Linked DNA regions of Homo sapiens. The protein of the gene in region 2 purifies or fractionates together with the protein of the main gene of each other region. This does not show direct contact. Each region holds a gene or a part of one and is shown on either strand. Other genes may lie near its edges. The genes, in order: ACVR1C, GTF2IRD2B, ZMYM1 and PRMT3.

Region 1 (8,450 bases), on a different chromosome or scaffold from region 2:
GTAGTTGAAGTTTCCCTAAAGTCTCAGTGGGGCTTTTCCTCCCGTGAGAAGCCCCATTCCTGAGTATCTAGTCCCGGAGGCTCCGCACTGCTTCCCCACGCCCCCTCTTTCTTCGCCCCAGCTCTGGGCGATCTCACTGCCGGGCACAGGGCCGCCTTTGCCTGCCTGCCCTGCAGCAGCAGGCCCGGGCGGCTGCGAGAGGGCGCAGGGGGCGGAGGCGCGGCAGGGGCGGGCTCTGCCGCCCGCCCCACCACCCGCTCCCCGCCCGGCTGCGGGGCCAGTGGCAGGAGCGCCGCGCACCGCCAGCCGCAGGGGGCGTGGGATGGGGGCGGCCGGGGAGGGGGGCGCCCACACTGACTAGAGCCAACCGCGCACTTCAAAAGGGTGTCGGTGCCGCGCTCCCCTCCCGCGGCCCGGGAACTTCAAAGCGGGCCGTGCTGCCCCGGCTGCCTCGCTCTGCTCTGGGGCCTCGCAGCCCCGGCGCGGCCGCCTGGTGGCGATGACCCGGGCGCTCTGCTCAGCGCTCCGCCAGGCTCTCCTGCTGCTCGCAGCGGCCGCCGAGCTCTCGCCAGGTACGGTGCTGGTTTCTCTCCCGACGCCCGCGAGGGTGGGAGCTGGGAGGAGGTCTGCGGGTGAGCACGGGGGTGGGGGACAGGGGGTGCTCCGAGCAAACTGACCTTCGGGGCGGACAGGGAAGCGCCAGTCGGATTGAGGGGGCGCGGGATAGGGTGCAGCGTGGGCACCTGACGTCTGGCAGCCGTAGGGGTAGACAGGTGTGTTGGGGACGAAGCCGCCCGGAAGAGGGAAAAGGCAGCAGGGACGTGGGGGAATAAGTAGTAGGGGTGAGGTGGGTGACTAATTTGTGGGCAGTTTGCAGCGGAGAAAATAGGAGAGCGTTTGTGGGTGCGCGCATGGCTGGGAGCTGGGTTCACCCTGCAGGGACCTGGAGGGCTGCAGGTATGCGTCGGACGCGCTCTGTGCTAAGCCCCTGAGAGCTGCTCAAGGATGGTGGCATGGTGGTGGTGGGAGGTGGTGATTTAGTCTGAGTTTTAGGAGGCGGGGAATACCCCAAAAGCCGCAGATGCCAAGCTATGGAGGCGAGAGTGGGAGCTTAAATCTGTGTGGTTTGCAACGCACATTGCTTTCGAGGTACGATCTTTACTCAGAGTTCCTGGGGAAAAAAATTCTGGCAAGCGCCCCAGAGTTTATAACAGGTCTGTGCCTTGATAGGCTAAATAGAGCCCTCTACCCAATCTAGAAGCCAGACGTTTCTTTATAATGTTTACTAGAAAGTGGGGCAAATGCATCTTTGGTAAAATCATAATATGCTGTGACTAAAAGCCCTTTACCTCGAAAACTATTTTCATTACATTGTCCTGGATTATGCAGAGGAGGAGCAGATTCTTTGCTAACTCATTCTTTAAAAATTTCTATCAGACATTGAAGACATTTGCACATAAAAATCTGGTGTTTTCCCATAGAGCTGTGTTTTGTCCGAAGCTGATTTTGATGCATTTTGTTTTCCCAGATGACAATCTGTTTGACATTAATAGCTATATTCATGGTGGGTCGTTTTCCTCTTAGTGACATGTGCAAGAGAATGATTTGAATGATATGATTGCTGTCATGTACAGATTTCAGTGTTTCAGATGGCCTGAGAGAATCACTAAATACAATATTCAAATATAAATTTGATTATTGAAAAGGATTAATTGACAAAATCTGAGGATTAAAACATTCCAGTTATCTTTTAGGAAAACAGCCCAAGACTGTCGGAAAGATGATGGGATAAAGTGAAATATTTGCATTTAGAGTTAATAAATTTATAAGTGGGAGAAAACCAACTATGGGAAAGTCTTTAAAAAATGGGTGAAAACTCTGCTAACTTGGGATACTGAAAGTGCTCTTGACAATTTAATAGAGTTTACAAAAAAAAGTCTTCAAGGTATCACAGTTTTGATGGGGTGAAACTGCCTCTGGAGGCTGTCTGTACAACTCTTTTTATTTGGAGGAGCTGATAACTTGGCTGCACACATTTCTACAAAACAGATTCAATTTTTTTAAAATGTAGCTTCAAGGGTATATTTTGTTGTATACCCAGAATCTTTAGAAAATTTCAGAGACCTTGAGCATAGCAACATGCCTCATGTTCTTGAAAAGGCATGGAAACTTTTGACATTGAAATATGCAAAAAATAAAAAAAAGATAATCCATTCAAAGTCGCTCACTTAAAATTTGAAGTCTAAGAAAAATGCATGATATGGAATAATATAGTAGAGATGTATTTATTGAAGCTGAACTTTTATGAAAAACTTTTCTATGTCAAGTGCAATCATTTTCAAATCTCCTTAAGAAGTTTTTACCCCTCTGTGTCCCACGTTAACAATGTATATTGCTACTTATAGTATTTATTCTTAACTTTATATAAAACTCTGGCTATTTAGTAGAAAGATTCAAGGTAGTTTTGTTTTGCTTTTCACTTTTTCAATTGGTTTTATGACATGGTTAGCCAACTGTATTTTTACCTGGTCACTTTTACAAATTATACTGTTAATCATATTGGCCATTTATGACATGTACTTGCTGTTGTTGGAATGTTATATGAGAAGTTGTTCTTGATGTAATGACATAGTCAGTGAAACTGTGTGACAGAAGGCACCACCTTTCATCTGGATCTGCAGAGCAGGCCTACGACTTTAAATATCTGAACACATGATAAACCAGTAAACCTTTTTTACTTTGGCTGCTCATTCCCCACATTGTTGTCACCTTAGGGGTGTCCATTGCTCCTTTTTGAGAATCTCAGAAGATAACAGCTGGTAGAGACTTAGAAAAACTGTTTATTGGTCTGGACTGGAATTAAAAAAATCAGGCTGGCTGGGTGCAGTGGCTCACGCCTCTAATCCCAGTACTTTGGGAGGCCGAGGTGTGAGGATTGCTTGAGGCCAGCAAGTTCAAGACCAGCTCAGGCAACATAGTGAGACACCATCTCTACAAAAAATTTAAAAACAATTAGCCAGTTCTGGTGGCACACACCTGTAGTCCTAGCTACTTGGGAGGCTGAGACAGAATTGCTTGAGACCAGGAGTTCAAGATTGCAGTGAGCCATGATCACACCACTGCACTCCAGCCTGGGTGACACAGTGAGGCACCGTCTCTAAAAACAAGAGCAACGAAAAACTCAGGCTCCTCTGAGTTGCTCTGGTTATGTAGGTTCTGGATGCCTTGATGTTTGATAAGAGAGACCTGACATGGCTTCACAATATTCACCATGTGTACCCAAAAAAGAAGTGGCAGAAAATGTCCTGGAGTTCTCTACTTTGAAGCTGTGATTTGGATGTTACATAGATTTACATATTGTGCATTCTCTTCTAATTTCTTGAAACTCCTTTGTCCTCTGGTCCAGAAAGGATTATTAAGAGTCCAGAAAGCCCTATGTTGTTACTCCAAAAATGGAATAAATATTTCCTTAATAACCAGGGTGAGAGTGGGGGTTTCAAGTAATGAAATTCTTCCCCCCACCCCCCTGCACCCCTCTGCACCCCCTCACCCCCACTGCAAACAATAGTTAGCAGTTTCCACTAAGAGTTTTCCACAGTGTTGCTGGAAGTGAAAGTGAAAGCTCAGGGCTGACTGAGTTTATAAATGCAAAAGATGTTGCCATCTTTGCCCTTCTTTAAGCATAGTCATTTATTGGTTGATTGACACAGATGTGGCAAGAGGCTCCCTGGTTCCAAGGAAGACATCTCTGGCCCAGGAGAAACTATGCTTAGAGATTTCCTCTGAATTGCTAAACTCATACAAAAAATAAAGGACTTTGAGGTGTGAAAGTGAGTAGCTAAGGATGATGCTACATTTTTGACCCAAGCAATGGAAGAATGGACCCTTAATTGGGGTGGGGCAGACTGCAGGAAAAGCTGGTCTGGGGAGAGAAGGGTTGGTGCTGACAGATCACAGGAGCTCAGTTTTGAATATGTTGAGTTCAAAATGCCTCTCAGATGCTGAAATGGAGATGTTAAGTAAGCAATTGGTTTTCTGGGTCTGAAGTTCAGGGGATAAATATGGACTGATGATAAAAAATTGAGAGCCAAGGGCATTTACTGATAACTTTTCAAAGACGCATTAAATAGAGCCACAGACTTAGCAAATAAGGCAGAGAATACCTTGTTAGATTGAATTTGAGATAAACAATGAATACCTCTTTAGTATAAGTGTGTCACAAGTATGACATGGAACACAAGTATATTAAAAATTAATTGCTGTTTAATTCCAATTTAACTGGGTGTTCTGTACTTTTATCTTGCAAACCAACATAAAAGAAGTCCTGTTGTGAGATAAACCATTCCTGATGCATGTATTTCTGGCTCTTTTATTAAAAAGAGAAGTGAAGACCTATTTTCTAGTCCTCAGCTCTAAAACCCTCGCCTGTTCTAGCTCCGTTACTGTCTTCATGTGCATCTCCCAATGTGTCACTCCCAACTCTTTGCACAGGATATCTCTCTTCTGTGTGAACCTGAAAGGATACCTAGTTTTCTCCAATCCTACATGAGTATCTAGACATGAAAATATGGGTGAAAAAAACAAGAATAACTCTTGATTCCCTTGATTGTTGCATGAAAGCAGTTGGTTTTTCCCAAGTTCGCTGTATTTTGGAAGTGGTTATTTTCAGATGTGATTTTGGAGTAGTTTCCTTTTGAATACACTTTCATGTTTCTCTTTTGGGGAAATGCTTTCAGGCAGTAGCCAAGACCCACTTTGTTGTACTTTTCTTGGCACTACTTGCATCTCTTGCCGTAAATAAGGTTAAGAGGAGAGGAGATTGGATAGAGGCAGGAATAAGGAGGCTGCTGAGCCCTGTGGGACCTGTTATTCTGATATAGTTTGAAGTTTTAGAGCATGTTCCTAAGAGAGCAATGACAAGATTTTGGGGAAGGGGCTTGGATACATAAATATCATCCTGAAGCTGTTTAGTTCCTGCTCTAGCTTAGTCTTGACCTACCAAATGATTAATGTTATCTTCAATTTGAGATCTGTAGTGTCCTATAAGTGGACAACTGCAGGCATGGATCATTAAAAAGCTCAGATTATGTTGACATATATATAAAGAGTTTATTTTAATAAATAATAGAACAAGAGAATTAATTTTCAAGTATAATTAGTAAACAGAACAAAACAAAGGAAAAATTCTAAGCATAAAGAGTGTGCTATGTATTATGCCTTATCATTAAAAAAATTTAAATTATTCAAAAAAATTTTTGTGGGTGCATAGTAGATATATATATATGTATGGGGTACATGAGATGTTTTGATACAGGCATGCAGTGTGAAATAAGCACATCATGGAAAATGGGGTATCCATCCCCTCAAGCATTTTATCCTTTGAGTTACAAACAATCCAATTACATTCTTTATTTTAAAATATGTAATTATTACTGACTATAGTCACCCTATTGTGCTATCAAATGGTAGGTCCTATTCATTCTTTCCATATTTTTGTACCCATTAACCATCCCCACCTCCCCCACCAACCCCCTACTACCCTTCCCAGCCTCTGCTAACCAGCTTTCTATTCTCTCTGACCATGAGTTTGATTTTTAGATCCCACAAATAAGTGAGAACATGTCATGTTTGTCTTTCTGTTCCTGGCTTATTTCAGTTAACATAATGATCTCCACTTCCATCCATGTTGTTGCAAATGACTGGATCTCATTCTTTTTTATGGCTGAATAGTACTCCATTGTGTATATATACCAGATTTTTGTTATCCATTCGTCTGTTGATGGACACTTAGGTTGCTTCCTAATCTTAGCTATTGTAAATAGGGCTACAACAAACATGGAAGTGCAGATCTCTTCCATATACTAATTTTCTTTCTTTTGGGTTATATCCATCAGTGGGATTGCTGGATCATATGGTAGCTCAAGTTTTAATTTTTTGAGGAACCTCCAAAGGGTTCTTCTTAGTGGTTGTACTAATTTACAATCCTACCAACAGTGTACAAATGTTCGCTTTTTTCCACATCCTTGCCAGCATTCATTATTGCCTGTCTTCGGAATGTAAGCCATTTTAAATGGGGTGAGATGATATCATTGTAGTTTTTATTTGCATTTCTTTGGTGATCAGTGATGTTGAGCACCTTTTCATGTGCTGTTTGCCATTTGTATGTCATCTTTTGGGAAAAGGCTATTCAAATCTTTTGTCAATTTTTTTATTGGATTATTAGATTTTTTTTCCCTACAGTGTTATTTTAGCTCCTTATATATTCTGGATATTAATCCCTTGTGAGAGGGGTAGTTTGCAAATATTTTCTCTCATTCTGTGGATTGTCTTTTCACTTTGTTGATTGTATCCTTTACCATGCAGAATCTTTTTAACTTGATGTGATCCCATTTGTCCATGTTTGCTTTGGGCATCTGTGCTGGTGGGCTATTACTCAGGAAATCTTTGCACAAACTGATGTCCTGGAGATTTTCCCCAATGTTTTCTTGTAGTAGTTTCATAGTTTGAGGTGTTTAATTCATTTTGATTTGACTGTTTTTGTATATAGTAAGAGATAGGGGTCTAGTTACATTCTTCTGCATATGGATATCCAGTTTTCCCAGGACCATTTATTGAAGAGACTATCCTTTCCCCAGTGTATGTTCTTGGCACCTGTGTTAAAGATGAGTTCACTGTAGGTGTGTGGATTTGTTTCTGGGTTCTTTATTCTGTTGCATTGGTCTATGTGTCTGTTTTTATGTCAGTACCATGCTGTTTTGGTTACTGTAGCTCTGCAGTATAATTTGAAGTCAGATAATGGGATTCTTCCAGTTTTGTCCTTTTTTCCTTAGGATAGCTTTGGCTATTCTGGGTCTCTTGTGGTTCCATATAAATTTTAGGATTTTTTTTTCTATTTCTGTGAAGAACGTCATTAGTTATACCTTATAGTATCTTCTTGGTTTTCCATTGCTTTGGTCTTCTAAGTCTTATATTTTTCACAGTCAATAGTCAAAATCTCAAGATTTATCCTTACCTTGTTGAAGAAATTGGGATAGTATGTTTAAGAAATTGAGATATGTTCATAAATGATACACAAATGACTCTTTTGCTAATGGGACCTAGGAATACCCAAACACTAGCTGCTGAGTCTCATCTTCAGTTAAGAGGTGACATCTAGAAAAAGGAGGTGAAACAAGGCAAAGTAACTTTTTCTTATTACCTGGAGCTTTTGTCCCCAGTAGCATGGCAAACTTGAATACGCTCTTCTTTTCAACAACTAAATAGCCCAAGGATAAAGGTAGAGGAGCTGTGATAAACCCGAACCCTGGATTCTAACTCCAGGAAACCATTGAAAGGCTATTCAGTCCTGGCAAAATGAAGCCATAGAGGCTGTGGAGCAAGGGACCTCTATTTGCAATACCTCGCATTAGTCCAGGTCTCATGGAAACTGGCAGGAGTTCCAGGCAATAATTTCAGGGGCGACTGCTAGGTGAGGGAAAAAGTAGAAAGTCTGTGGAAAGAGGTGGCGGGATCTCTTCTACCAAGGAAGCAGGTTGTACCCTTCCCACACTTGCTGTGGAAAAGAAGGAAGACATAGCCATGACCATGAGCCCCTTGTTTTTCTTGTTCTTTGAAAGCTGGATCCCTAAAGCATGTGGGCCACTTGGTTCCCTGAAACCCGAACAATACAAATCACTACTCCTCCTACTTAGGGATCCAGTAAAAAGTAAAAGGATGGAGGAGGTGGGTGGGAGTATGAAACAGACAAGGAAGACCTTATTTACATAGAAGCCAACACTTTGCTCCTTCTCAGGGGCTACCATTGCCTCATGATGTGCCCCTTGAATTCACTGCTCTGATTGGCCAGCCAGGCTAACACGGCTCTGCTGTGTCCTGATTCTTCACTTTTTTTCCTCTAGAATAGCTTCTACTTTCTGTTGTTCTCTTCTGTCTTTTAGACAGTAGGCATGCAAAGATACTGTTTCTTTGGAGCTGTTTTAAATTAATCTCAAGAATTCATGGGTGATTCACTAGGTATGACTCAAGAGCTTGGCTTATTATTATTTTTTTAAAACAATTTAAATTTGCCAATGACTTAAACATCCCAAATTAGATCAATCCACTTTTTCATTAAACTTTTCACTTCAAGAAAATCATTAGGATGCTCCCATTTTGAAAGTGAAACACACATTTTCTCCCAATCTATTTTGTCGTTGTTATCTCATGGTTAATAAAAAGACAGGGATGGATGCTACATCTCTGCATATTGATTAAGCACCTTATACCTTTTTTTATGCAACTTGATAATTGACTGAAATAAAGACTCTATGATCAAAAACGGGACTAGAAAAAAAATCTAACTCATCAGGATATGGACATGTTCAAATAGCTAGAAGACCAGATTTTGAATGTTCTCAACATAAAGAAATGATAAATGTTTGAGGTGGTGGATATGCTAATTCTCCTGATGT
Region 2 (7,814 bases):
AGTATGCAGCCTTCGATGCATGCTTTATTTTTCCTGCATGTGATAAAGTTAGATAACTCTGTTACTTGAGTTTGATTAACCAGTCTGAAGGAGAGTGATCTATATCACACCATGAGTGTGACGTGTGATGTGGCGCACTCTTTTTTTTTTTTTTGGAGACGGAGTCTCGCTCTGTCACCCAGGCTAGAGTGCAATGGCACAATCTCGGCTCACCACACAACCTCCGCCTCCCGGGTTCAAGTGATTCTCCTGCCTCAGCCTCCCGAGTAGCTGGGACTATAGGCGTGTGCCACCACGCCTGGCTAATTTTTGTATTTTTAGTAGAGATGGGGTTTTGCCATGTTGGCCAGGCTGGTCTTGAACTTCTGACCTCAAGGGATCTGCCCGCCTCCACCTTCCAAAGTGCTGGGATTACGGGCATGAGCCACCACGCATGGCTGATGTGGCACACTATTCAAGTGTGCTTTGTGGTGGGGGCTCCCCTGAGGCCACCCGCACAGCTGCACTCAGGATCACAGTACCGATCTCCTCTGTGTTAGTTGGTAAATAGTGCCTGCCTGGCCATGCAGTCCCACCCTAGTACCCTCCGACCGTGGCTTGACCTCCCTACAGTGCTGAAGCAAAAGGGGTTCCACCTGGCACAGCAGAGGCCCCTAGAACCCTTCCAGTGCTGAGACTAGCATCTGTTCTTTTTTTTTTCTTTTTTTTTTTTTTTGAGACAGAGTCTCGCTCTCTCACCCAGGCTGGAGTGCAGTGGCAAGATCTCGGCTCACTGCAACCTCCGCCTCCCGGGTTCAAGCGATTCTCTGCCTCAGCCTTCCGATTAGCTGGGATTACAGGTGCGTGCCGCCACATCCAGCTACTTTTTGTATTTTTTAGTAGAGACAGGGTTTAGCCATGTTGGCCAGGCTGGTCTCAAACTCGTGACCTCAAGTGATCCACCCGCCTTGGTCTCCCAAACTGCTGGGATTACAGATGTAAGCCACTGCACCTGGCTCAGCATCTGTTCTGATTGAGCAATGCCCAGGCACTCTGCTTCTGAAATATTCTCTTTTTTTTCCCCTTCAACTTTTATTTTAAGTTCCAGGGTCCATGTGCAGGATGTGCAGGTTTGTTACACAGGTAAACGTGTGCCATGGTGGTTTGCTGCACCTATCAACCCATCACCTAGGTATTAAGCCCAGCATGCATTAGCTATTCTTCCTGATGCTCTCCCTCCCCCCGCCCCCACCCTGTTAAATATTCTTAATGTCTTCCCCGGAGCCCTTGCAAGTGAGTCAGTATCCTGTCAAGTAGAATACGGAGAGGTGTTCTCACGAGCATGAGTCACCAGGGAACCTCCTAATGTAACATTTGAAAACCAAAGTAGGCTGGGCGCGGTGACTCACACCTGTAATCCCAGCACTTTGGGAGGCCGAGGCGGGCGGATCATGAGGTCAGGAGATGGAGACCCTTCTGTACAACGTGGTGAAACTCCGTCTCTACTAGAAATACAAAAATTAGCCGGGCATGGTGGCGCGTGCCTATAATCCCAGCTACTCGGGAGGCTGAGGCAGGAAAATCACTTGAACCAGGGAGTCGGGGGTTGCAGTGAGCTGAGATCGTGCCACTGCACTCCAGTTTGGTGACAGAGCAAGACTCTGTCTCAAAAAAAAAAAAAAAAAGAAAAGAAAACCAAAGTATCCTATTAAAATGCTCCATTTTTATTCCCAAACGCATCTGATTGCTAAATGATTTTTTGATCTTTTATAATATCTTTATTTATTTATTGTATTATTATTGGGGTTTTTTAGAGACAAGGTCTCACTCTGTCACCCAGGCTGGAGTGCAGTGGCATGATCATAGCTCACTGCAGCCTGGAACTCCTGCCCTCAGGTGATTCTCCCACCTTCACCTCCCGAGTAACTGGGACAGCACTGCCATGCCCAGATAATTTTTTTTTTTTTTTTTTTTTTGTAGAGACAGGGTCTCACTATGTTTCCCAGGCTGGCCTTGAGCTTCTGGCTTCAAGCGATCCTCCTGCCTCAGCCTCCCAAAGTGCTGGGATTATAGGCATGAGCCGCTGTACATGGCCTACATTTTCTTAAGGTGCACTTTTATGTGTGTGTACTCTGGAAATACCTTGATTACCTGCAGGGTGGCCAGGTTCTTTAAATCTAAAACACTAGTCCCTGTACACTCGAACACACTTATACGAATGAGTTTTGTGTGGTTCTGTGGCCGTCACCCTTGTCATTTGAGACTCACAGTAGGTAAAAATCATATGCCTTTCTGTGCTCATTCCCATCTCTGTTATTACAAAGTTTTCTTGGGAATCAAATGAGAAAATATATTAAAATGCTCACACCTATAATCCCAGGACTTTTGGAGGCCAAGGCAAGAGGATTGCTTGAGGCCAGGAGTTTGAGACCAGCCTGGGCAACATAGCAAGACCCCATCTCTACAAAAAATTTAAAAATTAGCTGGAAACAGTGGCTCACACCTGTAGCCCCAGCTACTTGGCAGGCTAAAGCAGGAGGATCACTTAAACTCAGGAGTTTGAGACAGCAGAGAACCATAATTGCAATACTACACTCCAGCCTGGGTGACAGAACAAGACCCTGTCTCTAAAAAGAAAATGCAAACATATTATCAAATAATTCCTGTTTAAACTGGACATAACAAGCACAGCTACATGCTGAACCTCATCAAAGGTGTCTTTTGTTTGGCTCATGTACTTTTGAAAATAAGGATGAGGCCTGGCACGGTGGCTCCTGTAATCCCAGCACTTTGGGAGGCCAAGGCGGGTGGATCGCTTGAGCCTGGGGTTTCAGACCAGCCTGGGCAACAAGGTAAGACTCCAGCTCTACAAAAAAAAGAAAAAGAAAAAGAAAAAAAGAAAAGAAAGAAAGAAAGAAAAGATAGCTCGGTGTGGTGCATGCCTGTAGTCCCAGCAACTGGGAGCTGAAGTGGGAGGATCACCTGAGCCCAGGGAGTTCCAGGCTGCAATGAGCCATTATCACCACAAACCAGGCACTCTTTCATAAAGGTCAATCTTCAGGTTTTCTTTAGAAAACCTGAAGATCTGGCTGGGTGCAGTGGCTCATGCCTGTAATCCCAGCACTTTGGGAGGCTGAGGTGGGCGGATCACCTGAGGTCAGGAGTTCGAGACCAGCCTGGACAACATGGTGAAATCTCATCTCTACTAAAAATACAAAAATTAGCTGGGCGTGGTGGCAGGCACCTGTCATAACAGCTACTCAGGAGGCTGAGGCAGAAGAATCGCTTGAACCCAGGAGGCAGAAGTTGCAGTGAGCCGAGATTGCGCCACTGCACTGCAGCCTGGGCGACAGAGCAAAACTCCGTCTCAAAAACAACGACAACAAAAATTCAGTCTTCAGGTTTTCTTTAGAAAACTTGAAGATCTGGCCACAGCTGGCGTCCTGGCAGCGGTTTGCTGGAGTTGAGGGTCAGCCGTCCCTCTGCAGGGTGGGTCACCCTCCTGTTAACCACGCCCTGCCCCGCCCCGCTTCCTCCCTCTCGTGCGTCATCAAGCATTTGCTGTTGTTTTCCTCATAGTAGTGATAAGAGAAAAGTGAAATATCTTTGTCTCCCTGTCTCTGTCAAAAGTGGGAAAACGCAAGATAGACCAGGAGGGCCGTGTGTTTCAAGAAAAGTGGGAGAGAGCGTATTTCTTCGTGGAAGTACAGAATATTCCAACATGTCTCATATGCAAACAAAGCATGTCTGTGTCCAAAGAATATAACCTAAGACGCCACTATCAAACCAATCACAGCAAGCATTATGACCAGTATACGGAAAGAATGCGTGACGAGAAGCTTCACGAGCTGAAAAAAGGGCTCAGGAAGTATCTCTTAGGCTCGTCAGACACCGAGTGTCCCGAGCAAAAACAAGTGTTTGCAAACCCAAGTCCAACCCAGAAATCCCCCGTGCAGCCTGTAGAGGACCTAGCTGGGAACTTATGGGAGAAGTTACGTGAAAAAATCAGGTCTTTTGTGGCATATTCTATCGCAATCGATGAGATCACGGATATAAATAATACCACCCAGTTGGCCATATTCATCCGTGGTGTCGATGAGAATTTCGATGTGTCCGAAGAACTTCTGGACACGGTGCCCATGACGGGTACAAAATCTGGCAACGAGATCTTTTTGCGTGTTGAGAAGAGCCTGAAAAAGTTCTGTATCAACTGGTCGAGATTAGTAAGCGTGGCCTCCACTGGCACCCCAGCGATGGTGGATGCCAATAACGGGCTTGTCACAAAACTGAAGTCCAGGGTGGCGACGTTCTGCAAGGGTGCGGAACTGAAGTCCATCTGTTGTATAATTCATCCGGAATCACTCTGTGCTCAGAAGTTGAAGATGGACCACGTCATGGACGTGGTAGTGAAGTCCGTGAACTGGATATGCTCCCGGGGACTGAACCACAGCGAGTTCACAACCTTGCTCTATGAGCTGGACAGCCAGTATGGTAGCCTCCTGTACTACACGGAGATTAAGTGGCTCAGTCGCGGGCTCGTGCTAAAGAGATTTTTCGAATCCTTGGAAGAAATCGACTCCTTCATGTCATCCAGAGGGAAACCCCTGCCTCAACTGAGCTCCATAGATTGGATCCGAGACCTGGCCTTCTTGGTTGACATGACGATGCATCTGAACGCTTTGAACATCTCTCTCCAAGGACACTCCCAAATCGTCACGCAGATGTATGACCTGATCCGGGCGTTCCTAGCAAAACTGTGCCTCTGGGAGACTCATTTGACGAGGAATAATCTGGCCCACTTTCCCACCCTGAAATTGGTTTCCAGAAATGAAAGCGATGGCCTGAACTACATTCCCAAAATCGCGGAACTCAAGACCGAATTCCAGAAAAGGCTGTCTGATTTCAAACTCTACGAAAGCGAACTGACTCTGTTCAGCTCCCCGTTCTCCACGAAGATCGACAGTGTGCACGAGGAGCTCCAGATGGAGGTTATCGACCTGCAATGCAACACGGTCCTGAAGACGAAATACGACAAGGTGGGAATACCAGAATTCTACAAGTACCTCTGGGGTAGCTACCCGAAATACAAGCACCATTGCGCAAAGATTCTTTCCATGTTCGGGAGCACCTACATCTGCGAACAGCTGTTCTCCATTATGAAACTGAGCAAAACAAAATACTGCTCCCAGTTAAAGGATTCCCAGTGGGATTCTGTACTCCACATCGCAACGTGATGGAGAGAAAACTCCTGGCAGGGCCCTATGGTGGGAAAGGCTGGAGTCTTCTAGTCCCAAGGGATTGGGAGATGACAAAATGAATTTTTTTTTTCTTTTTTGAGATGGAGTCTTGCTCTGTCGCCCAGGTTGGAGTGCAGTGGCGTGATCTCGGCTTACTGCAACTTCCAGCTCCTGGGTTCGAACGATTCTCCTGCCTCAGCCTCCCGAGCAGCTGGGACTACAGGCATGCGCCACCATGCCCGGCTAATTTTTGTATTAGTAGAGATGAGGTTTCACCATGTTGGCCAGGCTGGTCTCCAACTCCTGACCTCAGGTGATCCACCTGCCTCGACCTCACAAAGTGCTGGGATTACAGGCATGAACCACTGTGCCCAGCTGACAAAATGAGTTCTTAAACTTTTTTTTTTTTTCAGTTTTTTTTCCACTTTGAATCAGAAATATAATCTGCAGTATCATACTTGTTTATATTACATTGTATGCCTCACTATTCATTAAAAATCAAGAAAGTTTTATTGTATTATTGGTAGTTGACTTTTCTTATGCCTGGCTTGTTTCATTCATTCACATTACCTGCCTGCCACCCTGATAGGCACTGTAGTTGGCATCTTGAAGTTTAAATCAATCAACAGAGAAATAGGGAGAGAGACGTGTATATTTGCTTTTTGGTTTTGGGGGTTCTTTTTTTGAGACGGAGTCTCACTCTGTTACCCAGGCTGGAGTGCAATGGGGCGATCTGGGCTCACTGCAGCCTCTGCCTCCCGGGTTCAAGTGATTCCCCTGCCTCAGCCTCCCGAGTAGCCGGGGTTACAGGTGCCCACCACCACGCCCGGCTCATTTTTGTATTTTTAGTAAAGATAGGGTTTCACCATGTTGGCCAGGCTGGTCACAAACTCCTGACCTCAAGTGATCTGCCGGCCTTGGCCTCCCAAAGTGCTGGAATTACAGGCGTGAGCCACTGCGCCCAGCCTGAGACATGTATATTTGTGGAGGAGTATATATGAACACACATTTATCCCCCGTTCCCGTCCGCGTGGTATCCCACATGGTCTAATATGTTTCCAAGTTTCAGGAGAAATAGTTGAAAACATACTGACATACAATAATCCTATGTTATCTGTCTCTGCCTTCACCTGGAACCAGAAAGGTCAGGTTTAAAATGGAAAAACCCAGAGCCAGAAAGGTCAGGTTTAAAATGGAAAACCCCAGAGCAAATAACGTAGACTTTGTCTATAAAAGTTAGACAAAGTAAGTTAAGGTTTAGAGGGGTTTTTTTGTTTGCTTTTTACTATGAATAGTTACCGAAAAGTTGTGGCCAAGCATGTGGCTCACACCTGTAATCCCAGCACTTTGGGAGGCCAAGGTGGGTGGATCACTTGAGGTCAGGAATTCGAGACCAGCCTGGGTAACATGGTGAAACCCTGTCTCTACTAAAAACACAAAAATTTGCCGGGTATGGTGGCACGTGCCTGTAATCCCAGCTACTCAGGAGGCTGAGGCAGGAGAATCACTTGAACCCAGGAGACAGAGGTTGCAGTGAGCCGAGATTGTGCCATTGCACTCCAGCCTGGGCGACAGAGTGAGACTTTGTCTCAAAAAAAAAAAAAGAAAAGTTGCAAAAATAAAAATAGTATGGAAAATACTCACATGCCCTTTAGCCAGACTCTCAATTGTTAACATTTCACCCTTGTTTCATTATTGGATCACTTTGTCTCCCTACCCCCTTCCCTCCTTCTCCCTCTCACTCATATGTGTGTATGTGTATCTATAATCAGTACCTATGGTAAGTGTGTATAAGCAAATGTCTATGAGTATCTATGATATGTGTATAAATGGATGTGCATTTTTTTCCTGGACCGTTCAAGGGAAAGTTACGTATATCATTTACCCCTAAATACTTCAGTGAGTATTTTCAGAGAACAGGGATATTCTCTTACACAATAACGTTTCCTTTACCAACTTCAGTAAACTGAACGTTGTTGCAATTATTTTATCCAGTTTACTGTTCATACTCTAGTTTTCTCTGTTGACCCAATAATATCTTTCCCTTTTTTATTTTTGGAAACAAGGAAATCGGCTCGCTCTGTCACCCAGGCTGGAGTGCAGTGGTGCGACCTTGGCTTACTGCAACCTCTGCTTCCTGGGTTCAAGTGATCCTCCCACCTCAGCCTTCCAAGTAGCTGGGACTACAGGTGCATGCTACCATGCCCAGCTAATTTTTGTGGAGTTTTTTTTTTTTTTTTTTTGTAGAGACAGGGTCTCCCTTTGTTGCCCAGGCTGGTCTCAAACTTCCAGGCTCAAGCGATCTACTCGCCTCAGCTTCCCAAAGTGATATCTTTCCCTTTATAGCATTTTTCTCCTGGCAGGTTGTCATTTGAAGGTGTGTGTGTGTGTAATCTCTATTAGTCACTGGAATTAGTGACACAAAATTGTGAATACTTTCCAGATTGGGGGAATTCACGCGACCAGCGTGGAGGAAGGCTGTGGATCTCCACCTAATGACCCACTCAGGAAGCAATGGAGAAAAGGACTTTGATAAAAATGACAGGGGGTGCAGGAGGGAGAGAGCAACCCCCAGGCCAGGAGCCCAGTTGGAGCCCA
Region 3 (8,450 bases), on a different chromosome or scaffold from region 2:
TCCCACATGGCACATTATTTCAATTTTCCATCCTTTTATCTCTGTGCATCAGTGTACCTTCTAGCTTGTCTTCTTCACTAATTTGATATTCATCGATTGAATTCTTAACTTCCTCACTGTGTTTTCCAATTCTAGATTTTCCATTTAACTTTTTTTTTTTTTTTTGATGGATGCCAGGTCACTACAGAACTTCTCCATCTTTCCTCTGTTTTCTCAAACATAACCAAGTCCTTGCCTGACAAGAACAATATCTGAGTCACCTGTGGGTTTGTTTCTATTGCCATTTTTTTCCAGTCAGTTTTGGGATTTTAAAAATTCCTCTTAGTCCATAAATTATTACTGGATTCTGGAAATTTTGGATGAACATTATTAGCATCCGGATGTACTTCCTTCAAAGCAGACTAAGGTTGCCATTAGGCACGTGGATAGTAGTAGCAGATGACATTGATCCTGTTGAGGGTTGATTATAGGTCTTGTTAAGACTGGTCTATTTCAGTTTGTCCTTTCTTCTTGGAAGTGGTCTCTTTTCCTCCTGGGGCATAGCCATTACTCCTAGGGCAAGGCCCTCCTTGAGTCTCAACCCGAAATCCAGGTCTTTACCAAAACCCCTCTATCTTGCTGGTCTTAAATTTCAACTCTCAACTCAGCATAGCTGCTATAATCTTATTAGCTCTTTGACGTTTAACTGCTGTGTTCTGTTAAGTTTTTGAAGTCTCACTCTGTAAATGTGCAGTTTAGGAGTCCGCCAATGACTTGGAGGAGGGGAGATTTCTATGCATATTATTTTTCTGTAGTTCCCTCCTCTCCCAGATTGTGCCTCTTGAGTTCCAGCTACTTTAGAATCCAGTACTTCTAACTGTCTCCTGCTGTTTTCTGCTTGGGTTTCCACTATTTTGTCATGGAAAGTCCCCTTACCAGTAAAGTCTGTTAAATTTTGTAATTAATTCCAGTGAAAGGATTTAGTATGCTAAAGGCTACTCTGTTATGCCTGGATTTATCCGTTTTTTGTTTTGTTTTGGTTTGGTTTTTTTTTGGAGACAGAGTCTCGCTCTGTCGCCCAGGCTGGAGTGCAGTGGCACTGTCTCAGCTCACTGCAAGCTCCGCCTCCTGGGTTCACGCCCTTCTCCTGCCTCAGCCTCCGAAGTAGCTGGGACTACAGGTGCCCACTACCACGCCTGGCTAATTTTTTGTATTTTTAGTAGAGACAGGGTTTCACCGTGTTAGCCAGGATGATCTCGATCTCCTGACCTTGTGATCCACCCGCCTCGGCCTCCTAAAGTGCTGGGATTACAGGCGTGAGCCACCGCGCCCGGCCCCCATATTATTTTTACTTCATGCTAGTCTGTTAAAATCTGGAGCTCAGTTGGTTTCCAAACTGCATAGGATCTGATTAGGCAGAAATGACTTTGGCAGGAAGGAAAGCAGTATGAGGACAAGTAAAGTGAGGAGGTTAAGGTGCAGCTGATTCTTTGCCTTGACATCTGTCTCCCTTTCCCTCTGGCCCAAAGAGGAGGATAGTGTTTTCTCCTGTGGTTGTTGTAGATCTCCCTTTGGCTGCAGCTGTCCTTTCCTGACCCTGAAACCACCTCCATGACTACATTCCAGCTTCAGGGACAATAGCCTCCTTCCTTGAACAGTCATTCCTAGAGCTCTCTTGGGCCTGCCCTTTCTTGCCTTTGGTGTGGCACATGCCAGCCACCTAGCTCTAATAGGGAATTATTGTTGTTAAATCAGTATTCTGTACCCCTCATTCCCAGCCTAGTTTTGAAATGTACTTGTGGTTGGAGTGCTAGGTTCACACTGGCCCCTAGCATTTGTGGGGTCCTTGCTAAGAGTATGAATGGAAGCCCACATACTCTGTGTCTAAATATTTAAAAGTTATAAATTAAGCTAACACATCGTGGAATAAAATGAGTTCCATCCTCCTGCCGTGACAAATACACCTTTGTAATGACCAAATAGAAAAACACGTGTAAAGCTGTGGTTTTCAGGACTGAAAGTAAGCAAATTTTCAATGATGACAGAATTCAATTTTATGTATTACGTTTAAACATTGTATTTGGGTTACTCATGGTAAATTGTTATCACAGAAAATATTGAAGATTTGAATTTCATTATATAAATCACTGTCATTCATAATGTGGCTTTTTAAAATCATTTCTTCAAGTCATATTTATATTCATACAGAATTTTAAGGTTTTTTCCCAAAATTTTCAATATATACAGAATTTTAAGGTTTTTTCCCAAAATTTTCAATATTGGGTTATTAGTTTATTTTATTTATTTATTCTGAGATGGAATCTTACTCTGTCACACAGGCTGGAGTGTGGTGGCGCAATCATATCTCACTGCAACCTCTGCCTCCCAGGTTCAGGTGATCCTCCTGCCTCAGCCTCCTGAGTAGCTGGGACTACAGTCTGGGCTATTTATAAAAAGCAGAAAATGACTGTTTGTTGCTAAATTTGTTCAACTCTGTCTCCAATCAAGATTGTAACTTAATCTGTAGCAGTAAAAAAAATAGTCTCTATATAAATTAGTTTTGAGATTATATGTCTGTGAATCTTATTCATCGTCATGCAGTTTCCTTTCATTATTGTAACTGCCTTATATTTCATTGAAATCTCATGCAATTTTTTTTTCAATTAAAAAATTCTTTTTTTTTCTTTTGAGATGCAGTTTCGCACTGTCACCCAGGCTTGAGCGACAGTGAGCTTGATCTCAGCTCACTACATCCTCCACCTCCTGGGTTTAAGCAATTCTCTGCCTCAGCCTCCCGAGTAGCAGGGATTACAGGCGCCCACCACCACGCTTGGCTAATTTTTTTTGTATTTTTAGTAGAAACAGGGTTTCACCATCTTGGCCAGGCTGATTTTGAACTCCTGACCCTGTGATCCACCCACCTCAGCCTCCCAAAGTGCTGGGATTACAGGCATGAGCCACCGCACCCAGCCTTTTTTTTTTTTTTTTTTTTTTTTTTGAGATGGAGTCTTGCTCTGTCGTACCCAGGCTGGAGTGCAGTGGCACGATCTCCACTCACAGCAGCCTCCATCTCCCAGGTCAAGAGATTCTCCTGTCTCAGCCTCCCAAGAGCTGGAACTACAGGTGTGTGCCACCACACCTGACTAATTTTTTGAATTTTGAGTAGAGATGGGGTTTTACCATGTTGGCCAGGCTAGTCTCGAACTCCTGACTTCAGGTAATCTGCCTGCCTCAGGCTCCCAAAGTGCTGGGATTACAGAGGTGAGCCACTGTGCCCGCCCAAAAATTCATTTTTTAACAGTAGTTTGAACCATCAGGGTTATATAAATACTATTGTACTAATTTTCCAGGAGGAATCTGGATGATATCCCCTGGAGGTCTATATGTGTATCTGGAAATAACTCTTGAAACTTGCATTTTCTTTTTTTTTTTTGAGATGGAGTTTCGCTCTTCTTGCCCAGGCTGGAGTGCAATGGCGCAGTCTCAGTTCACTGCAACCTCTGCCTCCTGGGTGCAAGTGATTCTCTTGCCTCAGCCTCCCAAATAACTGGGATTACAGGCATGCCCCACCACGCTCGGCTAATTTTTTGTATTTTTAGTAGAGACAGGGTTTCTCCATGTTGGTCAGGCTGGTCTCGAACTCCCAACCTCAGGTGATCAGCCCGCGTTGGCCTCCCAAAGTTCTGGGATTACAGGCGTGAGCCACCACGCCTGGCCTCGAAACTTGCAGTTTCTTTGTGATCTCGTGTTTTACTTTAAGAATGAATATGGGCCGAGGGCAGTGGCTCATGCCTGTAATCCCAGCACTTTGGGAGGCTGAGGCCGGTGGATCATGAGGTCAGTAGTTCAAGACCAGCCTGGCCAAGATGGTGAAACCCGATCTCTACTAAAAATACAAAACTTAGCCAGGCATGCTGGCTGGTGCCTATAATCCCAGCTACTCAGGAGGCTGAGGCAGATAATTGGTTGAACCTGGGAGGCGGAGGTTGCAGTGAGCTGAGATTATGTCACTGCACTCCAGCCTGGGTGACAGAGAGAGATTCCATCTCAAGAAAAAAAAATGAATGTGAATTTTGTTGTCTGCTCTTATCATATTTCTCTCTTTGGTTTAAATTAAAATATTTTATGGCTGGGCGCGGTGGCTCACACCTGTAATCCCAACACTTTGGGTGGCCGAGGCAGGCGGATCACAAGGTCAGGTGATCGAGACCATCCTGGCCAACATGGTGAAAACCCGTCTCTACTAAAAATACAAAAATTAGCTGAGCTTGGTAGCACGTGCCTGTAATCCCAGCTACACAGGATGCTCAGGCAGGAGAATCGCTTGAACCCGGGAGGTGGAGGTTGCAGTGAGCCGTGATCGTACCGCTGCACTCCAGCATGGGCAACAGAGTGAGACTCCATCTCAAAAATGTGTTTATGTGTATATATATATATATATATATGTGTGTGTGTGTGTGTGTGTGTGTGTGTGTGTGTGTGTGTGTGTGTATGTACATATATGTATATATATTTTATATTACTACCAAGTAGTATTGCCCAGCAGGAAGATGTGCAACATTCATCCTTTGACTATTAATACCTGTACTCTTTCATACTATGATTTAGCCCTAGTTTGGAAAGATGAGTAGGGCTATATTAAAAGAAAGTCTGTAGGACTTATTTTACTCTAATGTGCATCTTGTTGGAAAAGGAAGTAATGGATCTGTCACTAATACATGTTTTGCTCTTCTTATAGCCAAACAAATGTTGCATAGCATTTTCCCTTGCCTCAGAAATTTTCAGGATGCTTTCCTTTTTTTTTTTTTTTTTTGTTTTTGAGACAGAGTCTCACACTCTTGCCTGAGCTGGAGTGCAATGGCATGATCTCGGCTCACTGCAACCTCTGCCTCCCAGATTCAAGCAATTCTACTGTCTCAGCCTTCCGAGTAGCTGGGATTACAGGCGCCCACCACCACGCCCGGCTAATTTTTTGTATTTTTTAGTGGAGATGGGGTTTCACTGTGTTGGCCAGGCTGGTCTTGAACTCCCGACCTCCTCATCCACCCACCTCAGCCTCCCAGAGCGCAGGGATTTCAGGCATGAGCCACTGCGCCCAGCCTCCACTATTTTTATGTTTGTATGGTGACACATTTGAAGGAGTTGCAAGATGCCAAAGCTCATAGGTACTTTGTTTTGTTTTATCTTACGAATAACAATAATTGTACCTCACGTAAACCTCATTGGCTGTGATACCGCCACTGCACAAAACTCGGTGCTTTGTTTTTAATTGATGTTTAAGACTTGCATGGCATGTGTACTTTCAGGTGAAGGGAATCTACCTAATGACAAATAGTTAATTTTTAGTGAGTTTTGCTTTACTGTTTGTGTATAATGCTCAAATGGGCTGGACAGAGGCTGTATGAGCTATTTATTGCACTTGACTCTCAGGCCTTATTTAACTTTCTGCATTGGGATAGGAACTTTCAACAAAAGCTGAGCTAAAGATGGAAATGAGGGAAGGTGGTTGAGCCCCAATCACAGAAATAAAAAATAATGGCAGAATTACTTGGGTCTTTCATGTACTAACCCAGAATAAAACCATAGTCCTGGAATTACTCCTGTAAGAGGTTTTTTGTTATTTTTTTCTTTTTTTGAGCCCATTATTCTAAGTGATCCTGTAACAACTTCAACTTCTCCACATTTGTGTTAGTTATCATCTGCCCTCCATAATGATTAGTTGTAAGGCTTTTTTTTTTTTTTTTTTTTTTTTTGAGATGGAGTCTTGTTCTGTCACCCAGACTGGAGTGCAGTGGCATGATCTTGGTTCACTGCAAGGTCTGCCTCCCAGGTTCACGCCATTCTCCTGCCTCAGCCTCCCGAGTAGCTGGGACTACAGGTGCCCGATATAAGGCTCTTTTTTTTTTTTTTTTGAGACAGAGTCTCGCTCTGTCGCCCAGGCTGGAGTGTAGTGGCGCGATCTCGGCTCACTGCAAGCTCCGCCTCCCGGGCTCATGCCATTCTCCTGCCTCAGCCTCCCAGAGTAGCTGGGACTACAGACACCTGCCACCACGCCCGGCTAATTTTTTTGTATTTTTAGTAGAGATGGGGTTTCACCATGTTAGCCAGGATGGCCTCGATCTCCTGACCTCGTGATCCACCCACCTCGGCCTCCCCAAGTGCTGGGATTACAGGCGTGAGCCACCGAGCCTGGCCTATAAGGCTCTTTTTTAAGGATCTAGGAGACAGGAAGACTTGCACTCTGAAGCCAAGCTAGGGTGGCAGGAAGGGAAAGGGTTCCAAAGGATTTAGAATCAGAGGTAACAGCTACCAGATAAGTGGAAAGTAGGCCTCAGTCAAGGAAAAAGGAGAAAAGAAGGAACCAATCTGTCTTTGAAAAAGAGACCTTGCTGGGAGGGATAGCATTAGAAGCTATACCTAATATAGGTGACAGGTTGATGGGTGCAGCAAACCACCATGGCATGTGTATACCTATATAACAAAACTGCACGTTCTGCACATACACCCCAGAACTTTAATGAAAAAAGAAAAAGAGACCTTGCTTTCGTAGTTCCTCAAAAGTTGTAAGATTGACCAAAAAGGAATCTATTGATTTGGATAGTGAGGAGAAGCAGGCAGGCATGTGTGATGGGAAAATAGACTTAAGACTTATTTGACTGGGTGTGGTGGCTCACACCTGTAATCCCAGCACTTTGGGAGGCCGAGGTGGGCGGATCACCTGAGGTTGGGAGTTCGAGACCAGCCTGACCAACATGGAGAAACCCTGTCTCTACTAAAAATACAAAATTAGCCAGGCGTGATGGCACATGCCTGTAATCCCAGCTACTCGGGAGGCTGAGGCAGGAGAATCACTTGAACTTGGGAGGCTGTGGTTGCAGTGAGCTGAGATCGCGCCATTGCACTCCATCCTGGGCAACGAGAGCAAAACTCTTGTCTCAAAAAAAAAAAGACTTAATTAAAAGGTAGATTGATCTAATTTCATAATTAGATTTAGGGAGAAGAAGAATAATTCCAGGTTAATCCTAGATTTCTGGCATGGGAAATTAGGTATATGACACTGCTATTTACCAAAAAAAAGGAATATCTGTAAAACAGGTTTGTGGGGGTAATAAAAGAATATAGTTTTACTGAGGCAAGAGGATTGCTTGAGACCAGAGTTCAAATCCCTTGAGTTTGAGGGACCTGTGGAACATTCAAGTGGAGATATTTATTTATTTATTTATTTATTTTGAGACGGAGTCTCCCAGGCTGGAGTGCAGTGGCGCGATCTCGGCTCACTGCAAGCTCCGTCTCCCGGGTTCACACCATTCTCCTGCCTCAGCCTCCCAGTAGCTGGGTCTACAGGTGCCTGCCACCACGCCTGGCTAATCTTTTTTGTATTTTTAGTAGAGACGGGGTTTCACCGTGTTAGCCAGGATGATCTTGATCTCCTGACCTCATGATCCACCCGCCTCAGCCTCCCAAAGTGCTGGGATTACAGGCGTGAGCCACTGCCCCGGCCAAGTGGAGATATTTAATAGGCAATTAGGTATATGGGCCACAGCTCAGGAATGTTGGGGAAAAACAGCCCATAGGTGATAGTTGAATCTGAGGTTGTGATCATAGGCTGGGAGCAGATGGACACCTGTCGTTGAAGCACTTTGGGAGGCTGAGGTGAGAGGATCACTTGAGCCCAGGAGTTCGAGATCAGTCTGGGCAACATAGGGAAACACCTTCTCTACAAAAAAAAAAAAAAATTACCTGGGCACTGTGGCACATGCCTGTGGTCCCAGCTACGTGGGAGACTAAGGTGGGAGAATTGCTTGATCCCAGGAGGGTGAGGCTGCAGTGAACTGAGATAGTGCCACTGCCTGAGTGACAGAGCGAGATCTTGTCTCAAAAAAAAAAAAAAAAAAAAAAGAGAAAAAGACTTGGTTTTTGTTTGTTTTGTTTTGAGATGGAGTCTCGCTCTGTCTCCCAGGCTGGAGTGCAATGGCACAATCTTGGCTGACTGCAACCTCTGCCTCCCGTTTTCAAGTGATTCTCCTGCCTCAGCCTCCAGAGTAGCTGGGATTACAGGCACCTGCCACCATGCCCAGCTAATTTTTGTATTTTTAGTAGAGACAGGGTTTTGCCATGTTGGCCAGGCTGGTCTCGAACTCCTCACCTCAGGTGATCTACCTGCCTCGGCCTCCCAAAGTGCTGGGATTACAGGCATGAGCCACTGCGCCCGGCCAAAGACTTCGTTTTTTTGTTTGTTTGAGACAGAATCTCGCTCTGTTTCCCAGGCTGGAGTGCAGTGGTGCGATCTCAGTTCACTGCAGCCTCCGCCTCCTGGGTTGAAGTGATTCTCCTGCCTTAGCTTCCTGAGTAGCTGAGATCACAGGCACACACCACCACACTCGGTTGATTTTTTTTTTTTTGTATTTTTAGTAGAGACGGGGTTTCGCCTTGTTTGCCAGGCTAGTCTCAAACTCCTGACCTCAGGTGAT
Region 4 (8,450 bases), on a different chromosome or scaffold from region 2:
TTACCCTTCATGACATAGCTAATTTCTGTAAAATTTAAATGTCTTCAGAGCTAATTGTTCCCTTTCTTGATTCCCCAGATAAATTCATATACACATTTGTTACAACATCTTAGTGTACTGGAGTTCTAATAGAAGTTCAACATCTTAGTGTGCCTCCCTCATTCCTTCTTGATGTGATGTAGTATTTGACATACTGTGCTGAATAAATGAATAAGTACAATAATATATATTGTCATTGAAATCCAATTTTCTCCATCACCTTGGGTAACACTATGCCAAGGTCATCTAGTGTCCATATTTGGATGGCCAATTTTGCCAACTCTGGTGTTACCAGAAATTTCATCATACTATTGCACTTGAGCAGGTTAATATTCAAACTTACCTTGGTGTGGCTGAAAAAGAGTTCTCTATAGTTATATTGAAACTAAAAGTAGCTTTTGACCCAATGTACTATAAGATTTTTAGATAAAAATAAATGAAGCTATGAGTCTAGTTTGGAAAAATTACTGTATGTAAAGCTTATTTTAGTGTCCAGAAGGTAATATGACAAGATAAGTAAAATATTGTAAATGGAACTATAGAGTTATTTTGCCTAGATGAGGACACTTAAAGTTTGAATTCAGGGTGGGTTTTCCCTTTACAATTCATGTACAGTTTTATTGTACAAACTTTTATTGTAAGTAAATATGGCAGTACTTTAAAATTCAAATCTTTTTAATGTGATTTGGCTTTGAAAATATAAAATCAGGCTATTTCTCTTTATTTATCCATACAGTACATAGTAAGCTTTTATATGATAGATAATCTGGGATTTTTTTCTTTCATTTTTAAACTCTAAGCTTTGACAACAATTAATAATGATTTGTTGTGTTTTTCTTTCCTTTTTCTGGGGAAATGAAGTTTCATTGCTCCGGAAGAAATTAATTCTAAAAAATACACTGTAACAATTAAAATGAAGTCAATTTTGTTCTTGAACTACGGCACTGCTTTGTGATATACTAACAGCCGTCTGCTGATGATAAAAAACAAGTCCATGCGGCTCAGCTCCAGAGTGTTCCTTCCAGCTCTCACCACAGTGCACACACTTAACAACATCAGTCATTTTATATCTATTTGACACTGATTAATTACTCTGATTCATTCTGGTATTATAGCCACTGCCTTGGCACTTTAGTTAGGTCTGAACAATTGAAGGGAGATCAGCAGTGTGAATTATGTATTTATTACTGTGACCCTTCATGCTACTTAATTAACTTAAATGATTGTGTGTGCACCCTCATCTTTGAAATATGATTATGGAAAAGATTTACCTGTATTTCATTTTAAGAAATGAAAATCATGGTTATCAGCATCAGCTTATATATATGACATTATGTTAATTTTTCAGCTGCTATATTGATGCTTAGCATTTTTTCTTTTGTGAAAAATTAACAAATATCCATTACTAATTCATTTTGACTGGGGTTTTTTATTTCTAAACTGAGGAATGCATAGAACTCTTATAGGTACATCCTTTGATCCTGAAATGAAGATGATAACCAGATTTATAAGCACTATGGAACATTTCTATTTTGACTTGCACTAAGGATTGAATAGGACTTCTATAAACAAGACAGCTTACATATTTTTAACACTCAAAAGGCAATGTAAATGAAAGAGCAGCAACCATCAGAACAAATGTACAAAAATGAAATATTTACTAGCAATACCTCATATGCTTCAATGAGAAAAGAAGTAAGGTAAATGCACCAGATTTTTTAGATGGTAGTTAAATAAATAGTACTTATCTCCTCTGATTTGAAATACAAATCAGAGCAATCACGTTTTGGTTGTTGTTTTTCATTTACTCTTTTGTTGATGAAGATGGCAGGAATGTAACACTGGAATATATTTCATACCTTTTATGAAGGAATTATACTTCTGATAATCCATCCTAAAGAATCAATTCAAAATTCAGACTTAAAAAATACTTGTTACACAAAGACACTGCTTTAATTTGCTTTTCTTTCTTTAAACTATCTTGCTTTATAGAATTTTTTTTCATTTTTTATAGTCACATCTGTCAACCTTTTGCTTTTGGTGTCTGGCTTTGGTTTCATCCTTTAAAAGATTATATTACTACTTTTGTACAATGTATTGAATCCTTTCCTCAGTGACTTAAAATGCTCCACTTACTATGTACTGAGTCTTCATAATTGATCTTATTTCTCTCATTTGTCTGTGTTTATTCCTAGGCACCACATTTTTAAACAAATAATTTACATATAATCAAAATTCACACATTTTGATTGTACAGCTCATTGAGTTTTGAAAATTACATATACCACTGTGGAAATATAGATTATTTCCATCACTCCAAAAAGTTTCTTCTGCAATTCCCTGTATGGTCAGTCCCCAACCGTGATTCCCAGACCAAGACAGTCACTGATATGCTTTGTCATTATATGTTAGTATTACCTTTTTAGAATTTTTATCAATGGAATTATACAGCATGTACTCTAGCTTTCTTGGCATTTTTTTTTTTTGAGATTCTTCTATCATTAGGTTGTTCCTTTTTATTGCCAAGTAATATTCCTTTGGCTATGCCACAGTTTACTTAGGTATTCACCTGCTGCTAGACTTTTGTATTGCTTTCAGTTAGGGGCCATTAAGAATAAAGTTGCTATGAATATTCATGTAAAAGTCTTGGTGCAGACAGATGTTTTCATTTCTCTTGGGTAAGTACCTAGAAGTGGAATTACTGGGTCTTATGGTAAGTGTATATTTAACTTTATAAGAAACTGGCAAATTTTTTAAAAATGACTATGCTATCTAACATCCCTAGGGCTAACACCATTGTGAATTCAGTTGTTCCACATCATTTTTAACACTTATAAAAAAGATGCAGTATTTTAAGCCGTTTTGAGTATGTAGTTATAGCTGTGCTTGTAGTTTTCATTTGCCTGATGTGATGTTGGGCATTGTTTCATATGTGTATTGGCCATTTTTATATCTTCTTGTGAGATTTCTGCTCAGATATTTTGCTTGATTTCAAATTGGGTGGTCATCTAATTGAGTTAAATTTAAAAGTTAATAATAGTTCATCTTTTCCCAAATGTATATTCACTTGCTCCATCATCATTTCTTAAAAAGACTATCCTTTTCCGATTTAATCGCCTTGGCTCCCTTGTCAAAAATTAATTGACCATATGCATATAGATCTACTTCTGAGCTCTCATTTTCCCCCAGGGATCTGTATGTCTGTCCTTGTGCCTTTAAGACAGTCTTTATAAGATTGAAAAAGAACAAAATGGCAAGATTTACACAAACAGTTGTTTTGGCTATTCTAGGTCCTTTATATTGCCATATAAATTTTAAAATCAGCTCATTAATTTCTGGCCTAAGAAAGCCTGTTAGGATTTTGACTGGGATTTTGTTAAATCAATAGATTAGGGAAAATTGACATCTTAACAACATTGAGTCTTTCACTCACGAGAGAGTGGGTCTCTCCATTTATGTGGACCATCTTTAAAGTTGTTTTGTAGTTTATGTAAGTCAGACATATATTGTTACATTTATCTCAAGTATTGTATGTGTGTGTGTGTGTGTGTGAGAGAGAGAGAGAGAGAGAGAGAGAGAGAGAGAGAGAGCGAGAGCGACTGAGACTCGGTCTGTCGCCCAGGCTGGAGTGCAGTGGCATGATCTCTGCTTACTGCAACTGCCACCTCCTGGGTTCAGGCCATCCTTGTGCCTCAGCCTCCCAAGTAACTGAGACTACAGGTGTGCACCACATGCCTGGCTAATTTTTGTGTTTTTAGTAGAGACAGAGTTTTGCCAGGTTGGCCAGGCTGGTCTCGAATTCCTTGTCTCAAGTGATCCGCCCACCTTGGCCTCCCAAGGTGCTGGTATTACAGGCATGAGCCACCACACCCAGCCTTTATGCTTTTTTGAAGCTGTTGTTTGTAGTATTATATAAATTCTTCATTGCTAGTACGTAGAAATAGAATTTTTATACCTTGATCCTAAATCATAAGACCTTGCTTAAACTTCAATAAATAGTTCTAGTAGCCTTCTTTGCATATAGCTTCAGGATTTTCTATGTATAAAACCAGGTAGTATGCAAATGAAAACTTTAATTCCCCCTCCCCCAGTCTGTATCCTTTTTCCCTCCACACTTTAATGTCCTGACTAGGACATCTAATAGAATACTTACTTTATGTTGGGTCTCTGGAGGTCATTTTGTTATTTTTGAATCTCAAGTGTCCATTATCTGTCTTTTCATATGTGAACTACTTTATACCAGCAACTAAATTAAGTAATTTGTATAAGACATACTGCTTGTAAGTAAAAAGGAACTAACAAGCCACTGTGTTGTAAAAATCAAGTTTGTTGATTCAGTGTTGGCAATTCAATAACAGTAAGTTAAACCCAATAACCAAGTTGGCAATTACTATTCTCTGTCATGTATTTACAAAAACATTGTCAGTTTATCATAATGTGGCTGTTCGTTCCCAGTTTTGGTGTCAATAAATAACTTAAATAGAAGTTTTTAAATGTTGATTTAAAAAGAAGCAAATAAAATAGCCAAAATAGAAAAGTCAAAATAGGAAAATCTTAAATGTGTTCAATATACTAATGATCTTTTATTTCTTCCTTAGGTTAATGCCTTAGATAAGAAAACGTGTATCATTGTTCATTAGTTATTATAGAATAATAGTTACATCAACTTACATATCAATTGTGTTTATAAACAAGTAAATATTTTTACCAAAAAAAAAAAACAAAACCCACGGGGCGGTAAAATTTAGGTCTATTTCTTATTCATTATAGTATATTTAAAGCTATAATCATCATTTTTTTAGATAGAGATAGGGAAGCACCAGAGTATAGTTGAGGAACTTGGGTTCTGGAATCAAACTGCCTTGCTGAAAATCCTAGTTCTTTCACTAGCTGGCAGATGACCTTGGGCAAATTACTTACCTTTTCTGAACTTCATCTGTGAGTAAGGAAAATGCGCTTACCTCATAGCAATATTTTGTGACCATTAAGTGAGATAAATCATGTAAAGACCTTAGAGTAGAGCCTAGCACAAAGTAAGTGTTGAATAAATATAAGCATAAATTATCTAATGATTAACCTGAACTCCATAAAGTTTGTAGAACTATCTGACTGGTAATCTTTATTATGTCCACTATTGGTGAACATGTCATATGAGATAGTTTTATATCATTTTCTTAATATAGAGGAATAGGTCAGATATAAAAGCTAAAGCCAAATATACACATTAACATATATACGTACACAAAAATTGTTATATTTTGTTGAATGGATTGCACCTTGGGCCACATTATTTCTTCTATTATTTAACTCCTTAATTATGTGTTAAACTGTGAGTCTCACCTTTTTTGCAAAGATGTAGAGAAGGTATCAGTAATGGAATCTTTATATTCTGAAAATAAATATAACAGGTGGTTATGTTTTACTTGTGTTATTTCACTACCATCTTGAAAAGCATTCAGATAATTTTCCTTGAATATGGGGAATTTGTATTTTTTTAAATACGATATTCATTCAGTACTTCAATAGTTTTATGTAGATTTCCTTGGTCATTATATGGAGCCTCATTGTGTCCATGCAGATGCTAAAGCTATTCCTGACACTGTTTGGTGTTATCTTAATATTATTTAAGCAAAGAATGGTGATCAACTACAACTTAGCAATTTGTTACTTTTTAAACAGCTCTTTAAAATAAATGAAAAATTAAATGAGAAGTATTTATAATTAGAAAAGTACATAGATAAAAATTTGGAACCTACAGAATTTAGGAAATCAGCCTTTGCACAGGTAAGTAATTTTTGTGTGTTCACTGTTTCACATGGGTACATTGTTTCCCTTTTACAGCACCAGTGCATCAATGGCCAATGGCTTTGTCATGTGCCTCTACATTTTCCCAGCTATAATTTTCAGTTCCTCAAAATGCCATTCCTGAAGGTTCTGTGTATGTGTTTTCCTTAAATACCATTACATGTACATCCCTTAAGCCTGGTTCTCCATGACTTCAGCCCTGGCATTGGGTAATTCATTAATTCTTGTGAAACCTTGCCTTTAACTGCCTTCCAACCATCCCCAGTGCTCACCTCCAGCACACTTTAGACACATGCCTATTGTGTAATTGTTAGTATAGCTTTTTTCTTCACCCTGATCACAAACTCTTTGAGGGCAGGGACCATATCTTTTTTCTAGATGCCCAGAACCCACCATAGGGCCTCATATTTAGAAGTTCAGTAAAATGCTTCCATTGACCCTTTATGACCACAATAGTTTTACTCACTTTCACAAGGATTTGACACTGTGGTATGTAGTTAGTTCTCGCTTCATTCAAAAATTAATGAAACAGGGCTGGGCGCAGTGGCTTACGCCTGTAATCCCAGCACTTTGGGAGGCTGAGGTAGGTGAGCGCATCACCTGAGGTCAGGAGTTCTAGACCAGCCTGGCCAAAATGGCAAAACCTTGTCTCTACTAAAAATACAAAATTAGCAGGTCATGGTGGCGCATGCCTGTAATCCCAGCTACTTGGGAGGCTGAGGCAGGAGAAATCACTTGAACACGGGAGGCAGAGGTTGCAGTCAACTGGGATTGTACCACTGCACTCTAGCCTGGGCAACAGAGAGAGACTGTCTTAAAAAAAAAATTAATGAAACATAATGCTGCTCTAAAAAATGAATATTGGCTGGGCACAATGGCTCATTCCTGTATTCCCAGCACTTTGGGAGGCTGAGGCGGGTGGATCACCTGAGGTCAGGAGTTCGAGACCAGCCTGGCCAACATGGTGAAACCCCATCTCTACTAAAAATAAAAAATTAGCTGGGCATGGTGGCATGCGCCTGTAGTCCCAGCTATTCGGGAAGCTGAGGCAGGAAAATCTCTTGAACCCAGGAGGCGGAGGTTGCAGTGAGCCAAGCTTGCACCAGTGCACTCCAGCCTGGGAGAATGCAGTGAGCTGAGATCACACCACCGCACTCCAGCCTGGGTGACAGAGTGAGACTCCATCTTAAAAAAAAAAAAAAAAAAAAAGAATATTAACCTTAAATAAAGTTTAAAAAGTGGGAAAACATCACAATAAAAAGAAGTGCTAGTTATACATTGTTTACTTTTCTGCTACACTGTATTCCTTGAATTCTTAACAATTTTTGCCTTTGTTTTACAGGTGAAGCCTTGAAAGGAAAGGTCACAGTTCACAAGAATAAGAAAGATCCACGTTCTCTCACCGTGACCCTCACGTTGAATAATTCAACTCAAACTTATGGTCTCCAGTGAAACAGCCATAAAAGCACACTACCTTGTAGTTTTTAATGTGGGGGTAGAGTGGGTCAGCAGGAGGGAGCTGGTTTTATGTGAGCAGATGGATGGATGATGGACCCTTTCCTAATGAGCCTCCTCAATAAGAGAGAAGTTCTCATTGTGGGAATCTGACATAGTTCAGCTGAGGAAGAGAATCAGCTGATCCTCATGGTCTGCCACGTAATCATTTTCTTAGACGTTTGCTCCACCAGATTTAACCAAATGTAACTCCCACATTGAGTTTATCTATATTGAAAATCATTTACATTGGCCTATATTTGGAAGAGAGATAGTCTTTTGTTTTTAATAAGTTTCTTACTATAAATTTTAAACAAATTGGTTAGTTATTTGGATATTTTATTAAACTAGTAACACAGGTACTACACATTTTATTATGGACTCCTCTGAGGAGGAGTTTTTAATTGTATTTGCTAGAAAATCAGGATGTAATAAAGATTTGTATAAAAAAACTAAAATATGGAAAAGAGCTTCAGCCTTCATATACAAATCATATATGCAGACAGCCTAGTTGATTATCTAGCATACTTAGGGTTCTCATTTTGTAGTTTCTTCCCTCTTTGTGACTATTCCTTAGCCTTATAGATTTCTAGTACTGCCCAGGAAATCTAATTTCAATACATTTATCCTAGGTTTCATGAAAGTTTTTAAAGATTGGGATAAATATGTACTTATTTACTAACGTATTATCTTTTTCAAACCAGATTTATGTGCAAAGGTTAAACATGTAACTGTTACTAAGCAGTCTATAAAGTTGTCATTTACAATTACTGATTCAATTTGAAATGTAGAATAAAATTTTAATAAAATGTATCAACTTATAAAATATTTTAAAAATATTGATATTATAAAAGTTTTCAATAAAATATATCAAACAACATTATAAAATATTTCAACAGGGTATGGTAGCTCATACCTATAATCCCAGCATTTGGGAGGCCAAGGCAGGAAGATCACTTAAGCCCAGGAGTTTGAGAGCAGCCTAGGCAACACAGGTCTGTACAAAAAATTCTTTTAAAAAAATTAGCCAGGCATAGTGGTGCATGCCTGTAGTCCTAACTACTTGGGAAGCTGTGGTGAGCAGATTGCTTGAGTCCAGGAGTTGGAAACTA

What was found.
Region 1: the proteins of GTF2IRD2B (region 2) and ACVR1C purify together in Homo sapiens (affinity purification with mass spectrometry; one large-scale study listed by BioGRID and IntAct). This does not show direct contact.
Region 3: the proteins of GTF2IRD2B (region 2) and ZMYM1 purify together in Homo sapiens (affinity purification with mass spectrometry; one large-scale study listed by BioGRID and IntAct). This does not show direct contact.
Region 4: the proteins of GTF2IRD2B (region 2) and PRMT3 purify together in Homo sapiens (affinity purification with mass spectrometry; one large-scale study listed by BioGRID and IntAct). This does not show direct contact.

What each region holds. Positions count from the first base shown.
Region 1 is NC_000002.12:157,620,694-157,629,143, reverse strand, and holds the start of ACVR1C (activin receptor type-1C isoform 1 precursor), read left to right. Parts: upstream 1-279; 5' UTR 280-499; coding exon 500-572; intron 573-8,450. UniProt on the Homo sapiens protein: Serine/threonine protein kinase which forms a receptor complex on ligand binding. The receptor complex consists of 2 type II and 2 type I transmembrane serine/threonine kinases.
Region 2 is NC_000007.14:75,144,085-75,151,898, forward strand, and holds the end of GTF2IRD2B (general transcription factor II-I repeat domain-containing protein 2B), read left to right. Parts: intron 1-3,609; coding exon 3,610-5,213; 3' UTR 5,214-5,733; downstream 5,734-7,814.
Region 3 is NC_000001.11:35,084,032-35,092,481, forward strand, and holds part of ZMYM1 (zinc finger MYM-type protein 1), read left to right. Parts: intron 1-4,717; exon of another isoform or gene 4,718-5,128; coding exon of another isoform or gene 5,129-5,144; intron 5,145-8,450.
Region 4 is NC_000011.10:20,501,118-20,509,567, forward strand, and holds the end of PRMT3 (protein arginine N-methyltransferase 3), read left to right. Parts: intron 1-7,186; coding exon 7,187-7,296; 3' UTR 7,297-8,221; downstream 8,222-8,450. UniProt on the Homo sapiens protein: Protein-arginine N-methyltransferase that catalyzes both the monomethylation and asymmetric dimethylation of the guanidino nitrogens of arginine residues in target proteins, and therefore falls into the group of type I methyltransferases.